Linked DNA regions of Homo sapiens: region 2 is linked to region 1. The links come from fine-mapping of genetic effects on gene expression. Tissue or cell type: whole blood. Region 1 holds a variant in brackets; the other region holds the start of a gene. All regions are shown on one strand. Distances are from middle to middle.

Region 1 (8,108 bases):
GCTTCAGATTTTTCTGCATATAGTTAATTAAACAGCCTTTTACTCAGTGTAAAAATACTAGCAATACTTCATATTAAGCATAAGCTGAAGAAGAGGTAACTATAAAGTATAATTGTCATTTAATCATAGGCATGCTTTAGGGAGCTCCATTCAGATTTGGGCATTTTTCTTAAAGGGATAGGAAATTAGTATACAGTGGCTTATGAAAAGATTCTGAAGCTTTAGTGATAGCATGTTTAAAATATATTACATTTTTATAGATCTTTCTATATTTCACAGCTGAAAATGCATATTAACCTTCTGGTTTGAGACCCCTGTAAAATAGGGCAGTTGATACTCAAATTTTATAGGTTGGGCACAATGGCTCAAGCCTATAATCCCAGCCCTTTGGGAGGCCAAGGTGGGAGGCTAGCTTAAGGCCAGGAATTAGAGACCAGCCTGGACAATATAGCAAGACCCTATCTCTTAAAAAAAATTGCAGATTACAGAACTAGAAACTTTTTTTTTTTAAGGAACAACAGTAGATATTTATTTATTTATTTATTTATTTGAGACAGAGTCTCACTCTGTTGCCCAGGCGGGAGTGCAGTGGCCCGATCTTGGCTCACTGCAACCTCTGCCTCCCGGGTTCACGCCATTCTCCTGCCTCAGCCTCTCGAGTAGCCAGGACTACAGGCACCCGCCACCACGCTCGGCTAATTTTTTTTGTATTTTTAGTAGACATGGGGTTTCACCGTGTTAGCCAAGATGGTCTCCATCTCCTGACCTCAGGTGATCCACCCGCCTCGGCCTCCCAAAGTACTGGGACTACAGGCATGAGCCACCGCACCCGGCCAAGAACAACAGTAGATATTTACTGTTCACCGTTCTGGAAGCTGGGAAGTCTAAGATTAAGACACCAGCAGATTTGGTGTCTGGTGAGGGCCTGTCTTCTGTTTCTTGCTGTGTCCTTACACAGCAGAGGGATGAATACTGTGTCCTCACACAGAGGAAGGGGCAGGGCAACTCCCTTCACTCTGTTTATAAAGACAGTAATCCCATCCATGAGGGCAGAGCCTTCTTGGCTTAATCACTTCCTAAATGCCTCACCTCTTCATACTATTGCATTGGGAGTTAGTTTACAACATATGAAATTTGGGGGAATACCAGCATTCAGACCACAGCAGTTCACATTGAAAGCTCTACCATTCCTTAAAAAGTAGACATATAGGTCGGATGCAGTGGCTTCTGCCTGTAATGCCAGCACTTTGGGAGGCCGAGGCGGGCAGATCATCTGAGGTCGGGATTTCGAGACCTGCCTGACCAACATGGAGAAACCCCGTCTCTACTACAAATACAAAATTAGTGGGCGTGGTGGCAAGGCTGACCAACATGGAGAAAACCCGTCTCTACTAAAAATACAAAATTAGCGGGCGTGGTGGCACATGCCTGTAATCCCAGCTACTCAGAAGACTGAGGCAGCAGAATCGCTTGAATGCGGGAGGCCAAGGTTGCAGTGAGCTGAGATTGCGCCATTGCACCTCCAGCCTGGGCAACAAGAGCGAAACTCCATCTCAAAAAAAAAAAAACAAACACATACAAGTAGACATGTAGTTGCCTGTAGAAGTATTGGCAACCACCTGTCATGTACTGGCAACCTACATGAGAATGGGTATTTTTTCATTCATGTTTAAAATTTTATTTTGTATCTGTTTTATTAAAATATTAACAGAATATTAAATATTGATAGAACATACTACTTGTATGATAACTTCCATTTTTTAGATGAACTCTAAGATGTTGGCCCCTTCAGTTGTGTTTCTACTGTCCTTCTCCTTAGGTCAATGTCTTCAGGTCTTCCACAAGTCTTTTGGACTTGCCAGGATATTTCCTATCTCTCATTTCCCTGGAAATATTAACCTCTCTCTGCAGGTCCCTCTGCTGTAATGCCTTCTGTGGCAGCACAGGAATTGTCTACCCATTCAGGTTAGGAGCAATTTTTAAGTATGGTGTAAAAATCTCTTTGAACACTCTATAATAGTGAGAGAAGTTGCAGTCACAATTTTCTATTTCTTTCTATTTTTTTTTTTTTTTTTTTTGAGAGATGGTCTTTCTGTCTCAACCAGGCTGAAGTGCAGTGGCATGATCATAGCTCACTGCAACCTCGAACTCTTGGGCTCAAGCGATCCTCCTGCCTTAGCCTCCAAGTAGCTGGGACCACAGACATATACCACTATACCTGGTTAATTTTTTTTTTTCCAGTGGAGATGAAGTCTTGCTATGTTGCCCAGCCAATTTTCTATTTCTTAGCTGATTTGGCATAGGTTTCAACCAGGTATAGACCTCAGGCCAGAAACAGGTTTATAAGAAATACTGCATTTTTTTCATTATCTGTGACTCAACATGCCTTGATTCTAAGCCCACATCTTTCAGGCTGGTAAGATATCCATGCTTTGAGCTGGGCACGGTGGCTTACTTTGGAGGGCCAAGGTGGGTGGATCACGAGGTCAGGAGATTGAGACCATCCTGGCCAACATGGTGAAACCCCGTCTCTACGAAAAATACAAAAATTAGGTGGGTGTGGTGGCACGTGCCTGTAATCCCAGCTACTCGGGAGCCTGAGGCATGAGAATCCCTTGAATCTAGGAGGCGGAGGTTGCAGTGAGCTGAGATCGCGCCACTGCACTCCAGCCTGGCAACACAGCGAGACTCCATCTCAAAAAAAAAAAAAAAAAAAATCCATGCTTTGTTATGCCTTGGATTTTCTGCCATCCCCAGAGATGATAGGGTTTTATTTAAGCCACTGATTTTTGATGGGGAGGGAGGGAGGTATTCTCTGGTTTTGGTTGTGTGACCACAGGAGTGACCTTCCATACATCTCTTGTGCTCATCTGCGTAGCCCACTTAAAACCATCTCCTCTCGGAACACAGATTTATTATTTCATGAGGTTGGGTACTTCAGCGTCCATAGGGAACTTCAAAGGTTAAATGATCAGCTCTATGTTACAGAGGTGAGATTTAGTACCCATGTCTTTAGACGTTGAATCCAGGTATGGGTTTTTATTATGAAAGAAACACCAGAGGAACCACTCATGTCTGATGTTGGCATTTGCCCTTAAAGAACCATATAGTCTTACATAGAAACCATTTGTCACAAAATGTTGATATATTACTTTTTAAAGTCTTCTGTTGATGCCCATGCTCAGAGCTCTACATTTCCTTTTTTTTTTTTTTTAATACCCTTTTATCTCTCTTCTTTCCTTTTACTGGTTATCTTTTCTCCCTCTTCTGATCACATGGCTTGGGGAGTCTATACTAAAACAATGATGTTTAGTAAAGCAGTTGACAAATTTTTTTTTTTTGAGACAGAGTCTCACTCTGTCACCCAGGCTGGAGTACAGTGGCACAATCTTGGCTCACTGCAACCTCTGCCTCCCGGGTTCAAGCGATTCTTCTGCCTCAGCCTCCTGAGTAGCTGGGACGAATTTATAAATGTGGGAAATGTGATAACCTATAGGATAATTACACTTCATTTGGTAAAATGATACAATGAAACCAGCTAATTTTTTGTATTTTTAGTAGAGATGGGGTTCACCATGTTGACCAGGCTGGTCTCGAGCTCCTAACCTCGTGATCCACCCACCTC[G/A]GCCTCCAAAAGTGCTGGGATTACAGGCGTGAGCCACTGCACCTGGCCAACAGTTGACATATTAAACTAGTTATGTAGATACTTCATTTTTACTTTACAGTTATTGTTTCTTTTAGAAATGGTATGCACACTGCTATACACAGTATTTAGTATACATAGTATTTTTAAGTGGAACATAATTTATTCTAAGTATTTTCATTAAAAATAGTACAATTGAAGATATCAAATAGTCTGTCTCTCTCTTTAGTAAGCCTCTTCTGAAATAAGAAAAACCACTCTGCTCTAATAATCTTCTAGTTACTAATCTTCTAGTTACTTCTAGTTACTAATCTAGTTACTAATCATCATGTGCTACATCTGTGTTGCAGACGAGAAGGCACAGAGTATCTGGAATAAATAAAAGAGCTTCTTTAGGATTTGGGCTGAAAATGAAGTTCATTTAAATGCCAGAGATTTTCTTCTTGTATTTCAACAGGCTTCTTATTTTTTTCCCTTTCTGTTGTAGGGTAGATGATATGCCTCCAGGAATATCTCTGCTTCCTGATAATATTCTGCAGGTTCTGAGGATCCAGCTTCTACAGTGTGTTCAGAAAATGGCAGATGGGTTAGAGGAACAACAGCAAGCCTTGTCAATTTTGCTTGTCAAGTTCTTCATTATTCTTTGCAGGTATCTAGTAGAAAAAATAAGCTAGTTTTCACTCATAGGTGGGAGTTGAACAATGAGAACACATGGAGATGAGGAGGGGAACATCACACACTGGGCCTATTGGTGGGTAGGGTGCTAGGAGAGGGATAACATTAGGAGAAATACCTAATGTAGATGATGGGTTGAAGGATGCAGCAAACCACTATGGCATGTGTATACCTATGTAACAAACCTGCACATTCTGCATACATATCCCAGAACTTTAATAAATTAAGTAAATAAAAAAGAAAAAAAGAAAAAATAAGCTAATTATCTGTTTTAATATAATTGTTACATTACCAAAATAATAATTAATTTTGTTTATTATTAGTGATGTTTGTAGTTGATATGGAGCTTTAAAGAGTAAGTGCACTTTTTGGAATAGGCTTGTGGTTTGTTAGTATGTTGGAAATCCTTTTAGTTACTATACCTAGTTATAGCAACATTAGCCAACATTTAAAAAAATTATATTAAAGTCAATGACAGTTTTTCTTCAGCAAGAAATTACTGTACCAGTATTTTTCATATGGTTCTCACCTGTAAATGTATATGCATTTTTATTACTCTGTGTTATTATCTGTGAAAATAAATCATTCAGATATTTCATTTTATTATTTTATCAAATAAAGTATAATTATCCTGTAGGTTATCATATTTCCCACATTTATAAATTAGGTCTGTGGTGCTTACATTTTGGTATGCATGAATAACAACAAGGAAACTTAGTAGAATATAGAGCTTGAGCCTTGCTTATGGAAATTCTGTTTCAAAAGGGCTCAAAATCTGGATTTTTCAGGCATTCCACATTCATCTACATGTAAGAATTCAAGAACCATTAGTTTAGGGGCACTGCATATAAGAATTCAAGAACCATTGGTTTAGGGGCATCTGCATATAAGAATTCAAGAACCATTGGTTTATTGGTTCATATTCCTCTTGAAACCTATCTTCATTTCGGAAGCTACATTCTATAGCTTTAAATCTATTTTCTTTTTGGAAGCCACTTTCTAAAACATACATTATTTGTTTTATAAATATTTTATAATTAATTAGTGGATGAATAGGGACTTAATTTACCTCTTAGTCACCTTTGGCTTAATTTCTCATTGCCTTTGCAGGAATTATGGAATGATTGATCAATAATTGCTAAAACATTTCACCCCTAATTTATGCTCTCCCAGAGCCTTAGACATGTTTTTATTTGTGTGTTTTTCCTCATCCTTAAAATTTGGAAAAATAATACAAGAATTATAAGGGTTGAAGTATGCAGCCAGGTACAGTTGCTCACACCTGTAATCCCAGCACTTTGGAAGGCCGAGGAGGTGGATCGCTTGAGGTCAGGAGTTTGAGACCAGCTTGGCCAACATGGTGAAACCCTGTCTCTCCAAAAAAATGTAAAAATTAGCCAGGCATGGTGGCGGGTGCCTGAAATCCCAGCTACTCAGGAGGCTGAGAGGCAGGAAAATTGCTTGAACCTGGGAGGCGGAGGTTTCAGTGTGCCGAGATCATGCCATTGCACTTCAGCCTGGGTGACGGAGCGAGACTCTTCTCAAAAAAAAAAAAAAGGTTAAAGGGAAAGGGTTTATTCAGGTAGTAAGACATAAGTTGACCTCTGATAATTTGCTATATTTTCCTGCTAGCTACCTACTACAATTTTGCTGAAATCAAAAATCCTACAGATATTTGTTTTCAATTCATTATGTTTAGATTTTGGTAATAGAGGGAAGCACTGAAATGCTCAACAAATTTTTTGGTTGAAAAAAAATTTTTTGGGTAGTAGATAGTTTCTTATGATAAATTTAATGTTCAATAGCTACCAGTCACAGAACATGTTTCTATTTCCAGAGACCTCACTTTACTTTTTTAAAGCTCCATTTAAAAACTTTAATAAACTTTATGTTTTAGAGCTGTTTTTATATAAATCTAGAATTCCCACATACTCCTTTCCCATACCCCTCAGTTTCCTCTATTACTAATATCTTACATTAGTATGATACATTTATTACAGCTGATGAACCAGTATTTATACATTATTAACTAAGGTCCATGTGCACATTAGGGTTCACTATTTGTGTTGTATAGTTTCATGGGTTTTGACTAATTTATGTTGTCATATATAAATTTGACATAATCATCATTATAGGATCATATAGAATAGTTTTCCTACACTAAAAATGGCCTGTGCTCCACCTATTCATTCCTTACACACCCACACACACACACCCCATACCCCTGCCCGCCCCAACCTCTGTCAACCACTGATTTTTTTTTTTTTTAATCATAAGCATACCAAATGTTACAGGTTTCATTGTCACCACTGCAATATGTGTACTGTGATGGAAGCATAGCCTGTGTCTCAATTTAGCCACATAAAGTTTTTTGGACACCATGATCAGCAGTACCCATTCTCATCTAGAATGAGGCTTAACCACTGATATTTTAATGGTGTCTTTAGTTTTGCTTTCACCAGGGTGTCATAATTAGAATCATACAGAATGTAGCCTTTTCAGACTGGCTTCCTTCACTTAGCAGTATGCATTTAAGGGTCCTCCATGACTTTTCTTGTTTGTTTGTTTGTTTGTTAGACAAGGTCTTACTCTGTCACCCATGCTGGAGTGCAGCTGCTTGATAAGGGCTCATTGCATCCTTGACCTCCTGGGCTCAATTTATCTTTCCACCTTAGCCTCTGAGTAGCTGAGACTACAGGTACATGCCACCATGCCCAGTTATTTATTTATTTATTTATTTATTTATTTATTTATTTGTATTTTTTGTAGAGAAGGGGTTTCGCCATGTTGCTCAAGCTGGTCTCAAACTCCAGGGCTCAAGTGATCCTTCCGCCTTGACCTCCCAAGGTGCTGGGACTATAGGCATGAACCACCGCACCTGGTCCTCCTCCATGTGTTTGTAGCTTGATAGCCCATTTCTTTTGTCACAGAATAATACTCTACTTATGGACATACCACAGTTTGTTTATTCATTCCCCTGTTGCAGGACATCTTGGTTACTTCCAGTTTTTGGAAGTTATGAATAAAGCTGCTAAAAACATCTGTGTGCAGATTTTGCATACACATAAGTTTTCAACTCATTTAGGTAAATGCTGAAGAGTATAATTGCTGTATCATACGGTAAGCTTATGTTTAGCTTTGTCAGTGCAAAATTGTCTACCAAAATGGCTATACCATTTTGCATTCCCACCAACAATGAATGAGAGTTCCTGTTGCTCTTCATGGTTTCCAATACTGGATTATACTATTCTTTTATATTTTAGCCATTTTAATAGGTGTTTGTAGTATCTTATTGTTTTAATTTGCAATTCCCTAATGACAAAAGATGTTCACCATCTTTTCATATGGCTATATACCATTTGTATCTTCTTTGGTGAAGTGTCTATTTAGATCTTTTGCTCATTTTTAAAAATTGAATTGTTTTCTTATTAAGTTTTAAGACATCTTTGACTGTTTTGAGATGTAATTCCTTTATCAGGTATCTGGGTTTTTTTTGTCGTCGTCGTTGTTGTTGTTGTTTTGAGACAGGGTTTTACTCTGTTGCCCAGGTGCAGTGAGTTCTGTTGCCTGAGGTGCGGTGGCATGATCACAGCTCACTGCAGCCTCAAGTTATCCTCCTTCTTCAGTTCCCCCCACCCCAAGTAAGTGGGACCGCAGGTACATGCCACCATGCTTGGCTGATTTTTTTTAATTTTTTGTAGAGATGAGGTCTCACTATATTGCCCAGGCTGGTCTCTAACTCCTGGGCTCAAGCGATCCTCCCACCTCACCCTCCCAAAATATTGGGATT
Region 2 (8,104 bases), 180 kb before region 1:
ATGTTATAAGCCTACCACATACCTAGGAGCTATTGCTCCCAGGCTACAAACCTGTACAGCATGTTACTGTACTGAATACTGTAGGCAACTGCAACACAATGATGGTAAGTATTTGTGTATCTAAACATGTCTAACCACTGAAACGGTACAATAAAAATATGCTATTACAATCTTATGTGACTATTATTATATCTGTGGTCCATCATTGACCAAAACACCTTTATGCAGTATATGACTGTATACTAATGGCCATTAAGCACATAAAAATATATTCAACATTATTCATCAGGGAAACAAAAATTAAAACCACAAAGAGATATCAGCACACCCCCATTTGATCTTGCTAACAACCAATCTGTCAATTCAAAGTGCTGGCAACAATGAGGAACAACTGGAACCTTCATACATTGGTCGTGGGAATATAAAATGGGTATAACCACTTCAGAAAAAATTGAGTTTCTTGGAAACGCACACAATCCAGCAATTGTATTCTTATGTATTTACCTAAGATAAATGAAAAATATGCCCAAAGACCTGTAAATGTTCTTGCCAGCTTTATTCAAAATGGCCAAAAATTAGAATATCTATTAACAGGTGAATAAACAAATTATAGTATACTGCGCAATGGAATACCACTCAGCAACAGAAAAACTACAAACCAAGTAATTAATGAGTAAGGGGTGTTTTTATGGGGTGATGAAAAAGTTTTCAAACTAGAGAGAACTGGTGATCTCACAACATTGTGAAAACAATAAATATCACTGAATTGTACACTTCGAAACGGTTGTTTGGGTTTGTTTAGCCAAAGTAAAAAAAGAAAAAAAAAGGCTAATTGTATATTATCTGAATTTCCCCTCAAAAACAAAAAAAAACTTTTGATAAAAGAGCAGGAATGAATTCTCAACCCACAATGATATACCAATACACATCCATGGTAATAGCTTAAATGACAAAGACTGACAACACCAAAATTGGTGAGAATGTGAGTAACTGGAACTCATATATTGCTGATGAAAGCATTAGATAGTATAACCATTTTGGAAAATGATTAGCAGTTTCTCATAAAACTAAACATGCTGCTACTTCATGACCTAGCAATTCCACCGCTAGGTATTTAAAGCTTTATGTGGGCAGAGATTTTCATCTGTTTGTGAGCAAACAGTGCAAGACACACAGTAGATACTCAATAAGTATTTACCAAATGAATGTCTACTTATTTTAGCATTGTAATAAAAAACTAGAAACAATCTAAGTATATTAATAAAAAGCTATACAGATAAAAATGTAGTATATTCATATGACAGAATACTATATAAAACAATTAAGGCCGGGCGCGGTGGCTCACGCCTGTAATCCCAGCAATTTGGGAGGCTGAGGCTGGTGGATCACCTGAGGTCAGGAGTTCGAGACCAGCCTGAACAATATGGTAAAACCCCCATCTCTACTAAAAATAAGAAAATTAGCTGGGCGTGATGGCATGTGCTTGTAGTCCCAGCTACTTGGGAGGCTGAGACAGAAGAATCGCTTGAACCCAGGAGGCAGAGGTTGCAGTGAGCTGAGATCGCGCCACTGCACTCCAGTCTGGGTGACAGAGCAAGACTCTGTCTCAAAACAACAACAACAACAACAACAACAACAAAAAACATTTAAAACAAATACATCAGTGGCTAAAACTATCAATATCAATCCAAATCAATTTTTAAAATAATACTGAGTGAGGCCAGGCGTGGTGGCTCACGCCTGTAATCCCAGTACTTTGGGAGGCTGAGGCGGGCGGATCACGAGGTCAGGAGATCGAGACCATCCTGGCTAACAGGTGAAACCCCGACTCTACTAAAAATACAAAAAATCAGCCAGGCGTGGTGGCGGGCGCCTGTAGTCCCAGCTACTCCGGAGGCTGAGGCAGGAGAATGGCGTGAACCCGGGAGGCGGAGCTTGCAGTGAGCCGAGATCCTGCCACTGCACTCAGCCTGGGCGACAGAGCGAGACTCTGTCTCAAAAAAATAAAATAAGAAATAAAATAAAATAAAATAACACTGAGTGAAAAACACAAGTGCAGGCTATATGCAATATGATGTAACTTATTTAAAATTTAAAAACACATGCAATAATAGACATGTATAAAATATAATTTAAAAAACACAAAACACAGATACCAACTCATGATGTTGAGTACCTGATAACGGATGGGTGGGATGAGACTTCAGCTTTATTGGAAATGTTTTATTTCCTTATCTAAAAAAATACTAGAAAGAAATACAACAAAATGTTAACAGTTGTTAATGTCGGCCTCTGTAAATATAGATATTGTGTTACTTTAGTCTTTTTTTTAATCTCAACTAAATTAAAAAAGGAATTTTAGTCTTTTTTTATCTCAACTAAATTAAAAAAGGAATTTTAAAACCCTAGTGTTACATGCAAGTGAGTCAATAATGGCAAAATAATAATGAGATACATAGAAGGTGACTAAATTTTAATGGTGAATACTGGATCCAAGTACAAGTTTGAAAATTTTGATTTCCGAAAAAAACACAAAACTTAAGTGATGAATGAAAAATAGACAAAATGGAAGAGGGTAATAAGAATATTATTAAATAACAAAATCTACTTCGAACGAGGAAATCTTTCCAGTTACAGATATATTTAAAACTCACATATCCCATCTGTTGTTGTTAAAGAATATAAAAAGAATAAAATTTTAAAGGAAGCGCAGTGAGTACTGAAAAAGCTAAAGTATAAAAGTACAGAAAAAATGTAAATATAGAATCACACAATGAAATCACCAAGTTTGGCAGTATAGTAGAACAAGACAGTATATTATCTATTTTGTATCTAATATTTTGATATCTGGTCCTAGTTCCATAACTGGTATAAACTTTGTTTTATATTTTTATGATATTTATAATAAAAATATGGCATCCTACTTTTTCCACCAGTTCTCATATTTGCAATTTTTCCTCTTTGGACTGGCTGATCTCTGAGCACCCTTCTAACTCTAAAATTAAACTGGTAATTAGAACACTGCCTTCCACATAGCTGTTTCAACGACTAGATAAACAATCATTTTGAACTATTAAATAAAGAGATTTCAAAGAATACTGGGTATGATAGGCACAGATAACAAATACTAAACGATTTAAAATTTTGGTCACATAAAAATACATACATACCATTCGGAGATGTTTACTCGGCCAGTAAATGTATAATTAACTCCTACTAAAGGATGAGGCACCTGTGGCTATTCCATAAATACTGATGTGAAGATGATTAAAGTAATATCGTCTTACAGTACGTCGCCTGAGTCAGAACCAAATAAATCAATACATAAATACTTTTGGGAAAAATCAAAACCATGGAAAAATGTTACCTTCCCAACAATCTATTTTACAGAGACCCATAGTTTATAACAGCTTTTATGCTGTGTGCATCAAGATCATCTATTACACGAAAAATGATTCCACCCCCTCTACTGGCAACGCCCCAGCATCGCGGGTGAGCTGCCAGGATGGACTCCCCGCTTTCCCCTCTCCGTCTTCCTTAGAGCATCAGGTATCTGACCACTGACATCACCTGGGCACCTGACCAGCTGACGCGCGTTTCCAGGAGCCATATCTGTGCCGTGGGGTCGGGTTGCCGGCCTAAGGAGCAGGATCTGTGCGCGGAGCCCCTCGCGGGCCCGTGCATTCTGCAGTTCAGCTCAAACTGCACATTTACTATGTTTTGTTTTTATCCATCGGTTGCCAATTAGTTTCTAAGGAAGACATTCCCATTACAAAATAATAGCGAAATAAAAATAAGCACCACGTTAAAAAGAGGTCAGCAGGGAAGCACCTGAAGGCTGTTCGGGTGATCCGCCGCCGCCTCTATTAGGAGCGACCTCCACCGCCGAGGGAAATCACCCAAACGAGCCCCAGGCTGCCGCGCTCCTTCACTACAGCGAGCGTGGCCGGGAGGCGCCCTTCCGCCGCAGGGGACCCAGCCACGCCAGAAACCGCTCCTTGCGGGTTTTGCCTGGGGGGAGGCCGGAAGAACCCCGAGCAGGGCCTCGCCTGGAAGAAGGCCGCAGGCAGCGGCCGGGGTCCCCCAGAGAACCGAGGAGGCCAGCAAGGCCCCGAGAAGCCGCGCGCGCGCGCGTGTGGCCGGAGCCTCCCGCCGCGCCCCCGCCTCCCGGCGTCGCCATGGGAACCCGGGATTTGGTCTCCGGGCCTGACCGCCGCCTGAGGGGGAATAGGGGCGGACAGGAGGCAGCAGAAGCTTACCGGCGCCGCTCTTCCGCCTCCTCGGGTCGCGTTCGGCCGTACGGTGATCCGTCCCGGCACCCGTTCCGGCCACCGCCCGCGAGCCCCGCGCCGACTCCCGGCCCTCCGGCAGCCAGTGCCCCTCCGCACCAGTGCGTGGAGGTGTCAGGCTCCCGCTGCGGGAGGCGGGAGATTTAAACCGCGCGACCTGGCGTCCGCGTTCGCCCCCCTCGGGCGCCGGCCTGACCCCGCCACCGGCCCGACTCGGGATCGGAGCATCTCTCGGTCTGCTCTTGAATGAACTCGGGGACCCTCTCTATTCCTCCTTTCCCGATTTCCTCTTTACTTAATAAAGTGAAATGACAAACACCAAACCGGTCAGAACATTACGAGGAGCTGAGTGTGAGCTCTCTGAGGCGTGGGGAAGTGGAAGGCATTGGCCCGGGGCCCTCCCGGCTCCCTCCGAGCACCCCCACCCCCGGACCTGCCGGGCCTTCTGGGGCGGCCCCTTAGCACCAGTGCTCCTTAGGCGGAAAGCGTTCGCCCGCTGTATTTAACTCCCGTGTTAAAGGTTTAAAGAGGTCTAAGTTAACAACCGTTCATAACCAATCTCAAATGCACATATCCATATCCATAATGTTTATGATGAATCTTCAAGAGTAAAAGGTAAAACCGGATCCTGAAAGTCTCAGGAAAAAAACAAAAAGGAAGGCAAAACTATTTACTACTAGTAGGAGATAATTTAATAAATTCAAACTTCATTCTTTTTAAAGGTGACTCCAAAACTTAAAAGAACTTTCCTAAAACAGCAGAATACGAATTATTAATTACAACTGCGACACATAGGCTAGCAAAGAATTAAAAGGTTAACACTCGAGGTGATAATTAAAATCTGTATGATGACAAAGATGGGGTGAGTCTAGAATTTATTTTATTTTATTTTATTTGAGACGGAGTCTCGCTCTGTCGCCCAGGCCGGAGTACAGTGGCGCGATCTCGGCTCACTGCAAGCTCCGCCTCCCGGGTTCACGCCATTCTCCTGCCTCAGCCTCCCGAATAGCTGGGACTACAGGCGCCTGCCACCACGCCTGGCTAAGTTTTTTGTATTTTTAGTAGAGTCGGGGTTTCACCGTGTTAGCCAGGATGGTCTCGATCTCCTGACCTCGTGATCCGCCCGCCTCGGCCTCCCAAAGTGCTGAGATTACAGGCATGAGCCACCGCGCCCGGCCGAGGTTCTGGAATATTAACAGTACAAAATACTCACCTTAACCTGGAAATTATACTTTTAGAATAGGAAAAGTGGCAAGCTACAGAGGGTTAATTTGGACTGAAAACATTAAATGTCTTTAGACTTTTACCCTGAGATATTTGGATTTCAAGGAATAGGCAAATACCTGAGATTATGTGCAAAATTTTGTTTGTTTTTTTGAGGAGTCTACAGCTTTCCTCAGAAGGGTAAAAATTAGCGTTTGGCAAACATGAGTGATTGACCTATTTCCTTGGGATGGCTTTCCTGAATCTTACCAAATGAGGCATTTCTCCTAAGGGGCATACTGCTCTCTGGCTGTAACGATCTACCTGCCTGTCTTCCCCATTAGGTGCCGAGCTGCTTCAAAGCTGCTCCTCCCTTACGCATTTCTGCAGCCTTAGCACCTAGCACAGTGCCTAATACAAACTAGGTCCTGAATGAATGTTGAATCCATCAATGAACGAAATGAAACAAAGATAGCTAATTCACAACTGAAGGATACATTATAAAATATCTGAAAAGAACAGATTATCTTTCTCACCAAGGAATAAATAAAGTGGCAAGCGAAATGACTTTCAAATGTTACTATGCCCCATAGTAAAGTTCTTGGGGTATTTTAGAAAATGTTTGTTCCAACAAGATGAAGTTTTAAGTCAAGAGAACAGTAAACTAATATCTTCTTCAGCTCAATCTGAGGCCGACTAAAGTCCTCCAAGGAACACACCTGGAAGTCAGAATAATGGCTACCGGCCGGGCCTGTTGCTTTTATTCACTTAACTGGGTAAAATTACAGAAAGATACACAGTATCTCCAAGCCATTAATGAAGTGTAGTATTTACACTTCATATAATCACTTTTTCTTCACAAGTCGCTAAGGAAACACGGTGGCACAGTGTAGGAATAGTATCAGAAAATAATGTAGAGCTAGCTGCTGATGCTTCTCCTGGACAGGAGTCAAGTCTCTCATATTTCATAAATGCCTGTGGAATGAATTCTTTCTTTAGCTGTTGGATACAATGTTTAAATGGCTTGCACTAGGAAGAGCGTGGTAGTTCAAGCCTATAATCCCAGCACTTTGGGAGACTGAGGCAAGCGGAGCACTTGTGGTCAGGAGTTTGAGAACAGCCTGGCCAACATGGTGAAACCCTGTTTCTACTAAAAATTCAAAAATTAGCCCCATGTGGTGGCGTGCACCTGTAATCCCAGCTACTTGGGAGGCTGAGGCACGACAATCACTTGAACCCAGGAGGCAGAAGTTGCAAGCCGGGATTGTGCCACTAAACTCCAGCCTGGGCGACAGAGCAAGACTCTACTTGCACTAGTCTCTTAACAAAAGGAGGCAGCTCAGTCATTACATTTTAGTGTTGCATAAAACCTCTTTAGAAAGTGAAATAATTTAACACCTTTAAAGTACTTTTAAATTTCATTTAGAAGTACATTTACTGAACTGTTATTTAACTTTCTATCCTTTCTATCAACATATAATACACTTATACTAAGGGGAAAAAAGGGGTTTTCCTCCATTGTATAGACTTTTACAAGCTAACTAGACAAGAACATTAGATGACTTGGAATGTAGGGCTCCACAAATGGGATCCAAACCTAGAGTCTTAGTTTCTTTAAAGACTAATGGTCTTCACTTTTGTTTTTGTGCAAACCTCTGGTTAATCTCCCAAATAAAACCTCAGTTGATATTAGAAAACACTAAAAATTATTCTACTGTTTTGTACTGTTTTACTAAGGATTAGAGGTCTATTGAATCTGACATCACACAAAAAGCTCTATTTCTTCAAGGCATTCCAGTTTCTTTGTAATCTGTTGGATTTTACCGAAGACGTCAGGAGAAGCATTATAGGTCAGTGACAGTGGGGCCATGGAGAGCTATCTTCCCAGATACCCAAATGAGTAATTAGATACTGCAAGCTAAACATTCTGTCTCTTCCCTACTACATTTCTGTTTATTCAAGCAAAGCTAGAAACAGTATTAGAATTAGACACAATTCTAGAATTAGAATTATTATGATGATTTTAAATGTGAAGTGTTATCGACATCGTTTTAAAAATTATTTCCTCCCCCTGAAACCACTGAACTTCATCTGGTATTAAGTCTCAGCCATGTTATTACACTTTCACCAACTATACATAGAATTGTTTGACATGTTTCTAAACTTTGTATCAGATAGTACCTAACAAGATACTTTCTCTGTAGTCTTTATTACTCAGATGTATGTCGCACAGCTCCATTAATTGGTTACATACCTTCACACTAGGTACTTAACCTGTCTGCATTGTGGTTTCCTTTAAATAACATGAATGACATAATTACATGAATAATAGGATAATTTCTAAAATTCATTTTTGCTTATATACAATTCCTATTAGAATATACAGAAATTGATCTTTATACATTTATATACTATTACAGTAATACGTTTAGTGGCACGCTAAAATTGAAATTAATTTTAAAGGCAAAAAAATGCAAAGCTGAACATATTATTGTAATTTAGTACCCACAAATGTCACTTAAATTTATGTATTACTTTTTTTTTTTTTTTTTTTGAGACGGAGTTTCGCTCTTGTTGCCCAGGATGGAGTGCAATGGCGCGATCTTGGCTCA

What was found. PIP is the estimated chance that this variant, and not a neighbour inherited with it, causes the effect.
Region 2: ICA1L starts here. The variant in region 1 is fine-mapped to the expression of ICA1L in whole blood (INTERVAL, PIP 0.95).

What each region holds. Positions count from the first base shown.
Region 1 is chr2:203,045,684-203,053,791 of GRCh38, forward strand. It overlaps NBEAL1 (neurobeachin like 1), which reads left to right. Exons shown (of 56, transcript NM_001378026.1): 4 at 4,131-4,292. LOC124900525 (small nucleolar RNA SNORA1) reads right to left here and starts at 6,735; the gene lies at 6,602-6,735. The variant G/A (reference allele first, on the strand shown) is at 3,626.
Region 2 is chr2:202,867,360-202,875,463 of GRCh38, forward strand. It overlaps ICA1L (islet cell autoantigen 1 like), which reads right to left and starts at 4,407. Exons shown (of 13, transcript NM_001288622.3): 1 at 4,260-4,407. It overlaps WDR12 (WD repeat domain 12), which reads right to left. Exons shown (of 13, transcript NM_018256.4): 13 at 6,902-8,104. RefSeq lists silencers at 3,950-4,439, 4,480-4,529, 4,590-4,719.